Linked DNA regions of Homo sapiens. The protein of the gene in region 2 interacts with the protein of the main gene of each other region in a pairwise test. Each region holds a gene or a part of one and is shown on either strand. Other genes may lie near its edges.

Region 1 (3,915 bases), on a different chromosome or scaffold from region 2:
GGAGGAACAGTAAGGAGACCAAAAATCCTTAAAATACTGGAAATCTAAAATATTAATTTATCGTTAGTAAATAAGAAACAGATATACATAAACACCAAGAGTTAATCCAAAGAGAGATGCCTTTTTCAATTAAGTTCTCATTGTTTGGACAGAAAATAAGAAAATTTGATAAACTTTCAAGGAAGATTAAAAATCACAAGGAACAGGTTGACAAAGGAGTGCTGTAATTATGACCTACAGTTTGGGAACAACTTATCTAAAACATTCCCCTTCCATTTTACTTAATGGAACCAGTCTTATCCACCCATCCACTCTACTCCACTCCCACTCCGTCTTCTACTATCTTCATTCATAACAATCATATGTAATGCATACATCTGACACATATAGATAAGAGTACAACATAAAATGCCTATTACACCAAATTCCTGTTTGTCCATTTAAGCTCCAGACAAGCTCATTTTTAAACGTCTTTTTTCTCTATTTTAATGCCACCCAAAACCAAAGTGATGTCCCTCTGGAATGATTTTCTGCAGTTTCTTTTGTGTGTTATTAAGTACTAAGATGATCAAAATAAACAAAAATGTCTCAGAAGTTTTGAGTGGATCACTCCAATAAGAAGCTACATTTTTCCATTTAATAAAAGTTAAGAGGTAAGTTGTAACTTTCATCACTTTGTTTTCTTTATGTTTATTCCATTGGGCTTATACTGTTGCTAGGAAACCAGTTCATAAGATTTCCCAGCCCACAGAACACCCTCCTAGGCAGCCTGGAGGATACCAAACTTCGTAACCAGGGCAATTCTCTACCACACAGTTTACTGGTTAGCCAACACCATGCAGGTGCACTCTGCCTGGCATGACCCTTACTACATTTACCTAATAGGTACAGACAGTATAACCAATCCCCTCAACGCAATAGAAATTGTAGCAGAGGGCAATCAGGTGATCATTAAGTGTAGAACTCTCCGACAGCAGGGAACACAACAGCGAATTTGTTGTCAGTCCCTGTCACCCCACCCAACTAAATATTGTGGGGGGGGGAAGGGTTGCCTTAAATTGTGAAGTAAAATGTCAGCCCACTCCAATAACTCCACCACGCAACATGCAAACTGCTTCCAAAAACCATCATCCAACTCCCACCCGGATTAATATTTGGAGAGAAAGGTGGCATCAGTATCCGCACAGCTGAGAGGGGAGGGAAGGAAAGAGTCAGAATTCATAAGGGGCCGCTGAGTCACCTAAAATTGTGGCCAAGACTTTACCCTCCAGGAAATCGAGCTCTGCCCCAACTCTCATCAAGGAAGCAAGTGAGAGTAGCAGCAGCAACATCATCCTACCAAAAAAACACCAGCGCAGCTTTTAATAGAGTTCCACTCCTTAAAGTGAAGCCAAAAATAGGTTTCATGTCCAAAGCTTTCCTCCGCAGTAGGCGACACGCGCAGATGGAGAAAATATCTTTATTGTTGGGAAAGGGAGGCGTGCTAACGGGGACGAAGGATACCTCACCACTTGGCAAAGTTACTGGCTCCTGCCTTGACCCTGAAATGCCACTTTTATTGCAACATGTGGCCCAAGAAACTCTAAGGAAATGTGGCTGGCAGACGCTGTAGAGCTTTTACCCCAATGTACTTGGCAAAGTAAAAGGGGATACATAAACCAGGCGCGTTCTGTGTAATCTAAGCAAGAATCAAGGTCTCCGTTCGGTAGGCGCTTCGGTGACACAATAATCACGTGTTCGTGGGCGTAGACTTTCGAAAACACTCGATTCTGGGACGTGCAGATACCGGTACCCACCGGCGAGCGCAGGAACGAGTGGGCACTCCCACCCCCGGGAGCTGGCTCCGTTCCCGCAGGAGGTTGGTCACGCCCCCTGACTCCTGGTCGCTGCGACAGCCAAGGGCGAGGCCGCAGCAGGCGGGCTGCAGGCGGCGGAAGCTCGTCCGCGCTCCTCCCCCGGTGGGGCGCTCTCCGCTCGCCTCGCGCGGCCCCGACCCCAAGACCCAGGCCCCGGAAGGCGAGCGTTCACTTACCTGCTCCCCTCTCTCGCTCTCCGCTGCCGCCGCTGCGCCGCTCACCCACGCTGCCCGGTGAGCCACCCCCAGCACACAGACCCCTACGCGTACACCCGAGGCACGGCCCCAGGCCCTTGAGGGGAGACCGCGGCCCAGCCACACAGGTTGGGGTAGCCCACGCACCACCCGGCTTCGAACACCTCTGCCCCCGGAAGTTGATTTCCGCCAAGGCCCGCCCAACACAGCGCCCGTCACTCAACGTAAACACGCGCGTCACGTGGCCCCAGGCCGAGGCCCGGGTCGGGGCCCCATGTTCAGAGCCCTGCCACCCCAGCTTGAGCGTGGTCTTTGGAGCGTTGCCCTGTGAAAAGGGGTGACTTTGCCATGCTCCTTCCCAGTCTACCTCCTGTTAGTTACAGTTTCTCATTCCTCTTGAGTAGCAGGCCCTGTTTCTCCACCTAATCCCTGCAAGTAAACCGTCCCCCAAATCAAAATGAGTTCCATCTGGAACTTTGTAGGATTGGTCCTAAGAAGATCCCGCCGAATCTCTTCACCACTTCCTAGCAGAGCACAGTAAAACCGGGGACTAAGCAAAGTGGCTGACATGTAGTAAGTGCTCAAGAAATGGATGTTGACTAGATGCTACCTCTCATCTTTGCCTGTCTGAACTCTCAAGCACCGGATGCAAGTAGACTGAGAGCCTCCGCCAACCAGTAAGATGACTTTGGTCAAAGAATTCTGCTCTAGAGTTACTTTTGTTCTTGTCTTCAACTCCAGATCACAGCAATTCATACGTGCCATCTCTGTTGCAGAGTTTTCTTGCAAAGCCTTTCTTAAAAGCTTTCTGTCAAATAGCTTGTCCTGAAGCAATAGGAAAAGAATAGCGTAATTCACAGATTATTTATTTGAAAGGAAGGAATGATTATATAGATGTCTTTGTCCATTTCAGACTGTCAATAGCGATGAGAGAAACAGTCAACTAGCAGTCCACTCGTGAATGTTTCTTCTGTTTTTGCCATGGAAGGATTTTGAAGAACATTCATTCAACAAATTTTTATTGATTGTATACCACATACCTAGTCCTGGGCCAAGTTTTGACAATTCAAGAGTGAGCAAGGTAACACTCAAGATATTTGTCTTCAAGAAGCTTACAGTCTAGTGAGAAAGAAAGACACTAACCTGGGGACTTTGAGCATAAATCTCTGGAATATTCACATTCCTTGTATAACAAGTATTCTTTCATCCTTGGACACTGGGTTTCTCATCTGTTGAACAAAATTGGCTTAAACCTGTAATCTCTGTTCTGTACTGGAAGTGGAAAATATTAGCAAGGCATCCTGACAAGTCTGCCATAAGTGCTGGCCTAAGTAGTTAATGAGCAGTTTCAGTATTGAGCAAGTCACCTTGACTACATTCTTTTTCCAGCCCACCCCCTTCTTTATGCATACAAAAAACATTTCTATTGTAAGAAATGTAATGCTTTCTTACACATATTTTTTTATCTGTCTACTAGACTACCAAGTCAAGGACCACTTCTCACTTGTATATCCAGCAATCTACTCACTTCTCATTTGTCTTTGTGTATCCAGCAGTCTAGCAAAGTGTCTAGTAGTTAGAAAAAAGGTATTCATAAATATTTCTTAAACTTAGTAAGGTTACCTTTATATTATTTTGTCTCTCATATCTCTTTCTGCTGGAAACCAGATTAGTTTCTGGGAGTTCCTTCCCATTGATGTACTTACATGTTCACTCTGTCCCGATATTCAATACTAAACTGTATTCCATACTAAACAGATTTATAATAAGTAACTAATATTTATTATTAATATTTGCTATGTGCCTGGCATTAGATTAAATATTTTAAATCCCATATATAACTTACCACAATAATTTTACAAAGT
Region 2 (3,915 bases):
CAAACTGGCCACTGTGGGGACACAGACCCACAAGATTAGGTCATCACTGTGGTCATTGGGGAAATGACCCCACTGTCAGCTACCAGGTCACACAAATTCAGAGTGATTCTGCCAGGACAGGACAAATCATGCCACCAGTCTGCATCCCCACCTGATGACAACCTGTGGATGAGATGGGGCAGGGACTGGGCTTCCCTTCTGTCCATTCCTTCTATGAGGAATGAATGTTAGTATTCTTAGTCCCAGTGTACAGAGGTGAGCACTGAGGCCCAGAAAGGTTATTGATCAGGATGACATAGCCTTGTCATTGCAAAATCTCAGCTAGAACCCAAGTCTAGGACCCACCAGATGAAATCACAATGTCCATAAGCAGACTGGGCTGGTGGGGATCCAGGTTTGGGTAGAGTTTGGAGAGGAGGCAGCCTAACAAGGTTAATCATCATAGTGGGGGAGCATCACAGTCAGAGGACTTGGTATAAACAGAGAGTTGTACAATTAGGAAACTGAGGCATAAGGATAGGTCATGTGACTCGCCTGAGGTCATCGCAGAGTTAATGGCAAAGCCAAGCCTCAAAGTCAGATACCCAACCGGCTGTCCACAAAGCCTCTGAGATAGTTAGAGCAGTCTAGACCATTATTATTCCCCTTCAGGCACTAGTACCCAGGGCTGGGCTCAGAAACCCATTACTCCAGGGACAGAGACAGCAAGCATGAAATGGAGTCCATGGCAGAGTGGCAGGCAGCCCTGAGCCAGCTTCCCTGAGTGCTCCAGGGGCCCTCCCCACAGGGAAGGGCACCAACCACCTGCTTCTGCACCTCAGTTCAGTGACCAGCAGGAGCAGATCTAAGTCCTCAGAGACTTCCCAGTGACCATCTTGCCCGGGGGTCCTCCCGTCCCCTTACTGCCATTTGCCATCATTGCCCCATGTTTTCTTGCCACCCAAAATACCCACTGCTTGAGTAACTCAGAAAGTTTTCTGGTTCAGCTTAATGGCTCAATAAGGGGCCAGCAGACTCCAGACTTAAGAGGTACACTCTTAGTGGCTCTGGGTTAAAAGCTACATACAGGGAAATGCCTGGGATATTTGCCCCAAATGCAGAAAATAGCAAAATAGCACTGCATCTGAACCACTCCATCATTAGCATCATCCTCAGTGAGACAGTCTTCAAAATACCCGGAGTGGCAATAACAACAACAAAGTCAAGTTCAGCAAGCAACAGATACATAGGCCAACACTTAGGTAGCATTCTATGGCAGCCACTTCAGAGACGTTCCCAAACACAAACTCATGCATCTCTCCATTGCCTTAATCTCCATTCAATCAACACTGTCTGGGCATCCAGTCTGTGCCAGGATCTGTGCTAGGCACTACGGGGCAGGGACCAAAGGCACAGACAACAGGTACAGATGGAGCTCTAGGGAAAGAGAAGATCCTGGGGGCTGGACTGGGCAGAGAAGGCTTTGTGGAGCCAAATTTATCTTACATCGTCCACTGACTCTAAATTTTTAGCTATTTCAGTTCCAAATATTGGCTCTGAGCTGTGCACACACTAAGGGCTGACGCAGGTGGAGTGGAGCCAGGCCTCCCAGAGCCAGAGTGAACACATTCAGTGTGAACTCTAACACATATGGTCTCTTGGAGCCACTCTGGGCCTCGAGGACAGCGGGTGCCTTGGTAGGTGCCAACAAACACTTGACCGAGCTTCCAGGCCCGGGTGGCTCTGAGTCTCAGTGTCAAGGCAGCCACACGCCTCTCCTCTCCGACACCTCAAGCAGCCGCTGGCAGGGCCTGGCATTTCAGAGTCCCTGTGACCTTGTCACAGAAGCCCTGAGTTCCTACTTGACCTGTGGGGAAAGCAAAGCTTAAGGGTGGTAAGGGATACACTTAGGTTTACAGAGCACATAGGCAGTGGCGCAGGGCTTGGCTTGGCATCCAAATCCCCCAGCTCCCAGCCCTGCACTGTGTTGACAGCCTTAGGACTTGTGAAACGGCAGAAGGGCTTTTGTAAACTAGAGCTAAACATTTCAGGCCATGTTGACGTTGTTTCCCCTTCCTCTTATGAGGGAAACAGTGGCATTTTTTTTCTATATCACATGCCTGAAAAATTCCTCAAACTCTCAAAAAGCAAATGAGTGTTTGCTTTTCCTGCCTGAGTTTTCTCTTTGCGAGACAGCTGTGGCAATGAGTGGTGACCGGGGCAGGCCCACTGCACAGGCATCTTTCCCTCCCCAAAAGGAGGTATTTTGAGAGTGGGTGACTACGATGGCGCCAAATACCACACACCACCACTCGTCTCACCTGTCTTCACTCAGGCACAGCCCTCTGCTCAACCTGTAGAGGGGAGCCTCAGAGGGAGCCAAGGCTGCTGGCTGGTGTCCCCCACTCCTTGGGCTGTTTCCAGAAGAGCAGAGAACACCCTCCACCAGACCCAGCCCCCAGGCTTCAAGATCAGACAGGCCTGGCCTCAGAGACTTATGCTTTCACCTGCTCTGAACATAGATTTGCTCATCTGTCAAATGGGAATCAGGGTTCCCTGCTAGAGAATTGTGAAGACTGGAAATATTTGTAATGTTGGCCCGTGGTACTCAAAAGTGGTTCATGTGAAGGCTGAGCAAGAGACATCCAGAGACATAAGTCACTGATTCAAATGGTCTGGAATGTGAAACCAAGGAATTGGTTTAATTTTATTTATTTTTAGAGATGGGGTCTGGCTCTGCTGCCCCGGCTGGAGGGCAGTGGTGTGATCATAACTCACTGCAGCCTCAAACTCCTGGGCTCAAGCAATCCTCCCAACCTCAGCCTCCCGAGTAGCTGGGACCACAGGTGCCTGCCACACCACCCAGCTTCAGTTTAATTTTAAAAGCACCACCCTACCCCGCCAATGATTCCCACGCACAGCCAGATGTGAAAATAGCTCTATTCCGAGCAAGTAGCCAACTCTTTAAATCCTAGAGCAGTGGTTCTCAACCCAGGCCACACATTGATATTGCCTGGGGAATTTTAAAACTCCTAGTGTTTAAGTCTCACCCTGAGAGATTCTGATCTCCTGGGTCTGGGCCTGAAGATGGGGCTATTTAAAAGCCCGCTGGGTAACTGACATGCAGCCAGGGCTGACTTACAACAGCTTTCTGATTATCTCCATTTCACAAATGAAGAAACTATACCACTGTTACTCATACTAGTTCCTCATTTTCAGTATTACACTTCCCCATAGTTCTCTGATCTGATCATTTCAGGAAAGGAGTAAAGAAAGGGAATCAGAGGGGAGGGGTTGTCTCTCCCATCAGCATGATTTTTGCTTGAGGGGTTCACCAGTCTAACTGCTGTGTTATGAATATGCAAATCAAGGCAGAAGATTACTCTAGCTTTCGGAGGATAACAGGAGTGAAAATTTGCAGTCAGGCACTCCCTGGCCACTGTACTCAGCAGATGCACAAAAGCAGAACCTGAGGTGGCTCTAGTATGCCCATCAGAGGGCCCAGCCAACCCAAGGGCAGGTGACAGCAACAGGCCTTTTTCTGCACACAGAAGGCTCTGCAGCCAGAAGTTGAGGTCCCACAGTGCAGAAGTCGCCAGCTAGGCTACAGGGATGATGGGTGGGAGGCGAGGGTCTGTCTACTTTAGGACAGAGCCACCCAGAATGTCATCCAGGGAGGGAGCAGAAGGGAGCAATTCAACCTCTAATGAAAGTCATTGCTAACACTAAATCAAAAATGATGGGAATACTGGAATCTGGTATACATATGCAAAGCACACATATTCCAGTATCTCTGCCCCCCATAGCAACAATCAATACCTATGCATGGTCTACTGCAGCACGGGGCTGGTAGGAGGCCCGATTCCTCGTCCTAATCTGCTATCAAAGTTTCATGGGCTTGACAGGGAGCTGCCTTTTCAGTTCATGTTTCTCCAT

What was found.
Region 1: the proteins of DAPK2 (region 2) and CCDC91 interact in binary tests that used the Homo sapiens proteins (3 or more experiments, as listed by UniProt).

What each region holds. Positions count from the first base shown.
Region 1 is NC_000012.12:28,188,759-28,192,673, reverse strand, and holds the start of CCDC91 (coiled-coil domain-containing protein 91), read right to left. Parts: upstream 2,219-3,915; 5' UTR 2,033-2,218; exon of another isoform or gene 1,936-2,032; intron 1-1,935. UniProt on the Homo sapiens protein: Involved in the regulation of membrane traffic through the trans-Golgi network (TGN). Functions in close cooperation with the GGAs in the sorting of hydrolases to lysosomes.
Region 2 is NC_000015.10:63,983,744-63,987,658, forward strand, and holds part of DAPK2 (death-associated protein kinase 2), read right to left. Parts: intron 12-3,915; coding exon 1-11. UniProt on the Homo sapiens protein: Calcium/calmodulin-dependent serine/threonine kinase involved in multiple cellular signaling pathways that trigger cell survival, apoptosis, and autophagy.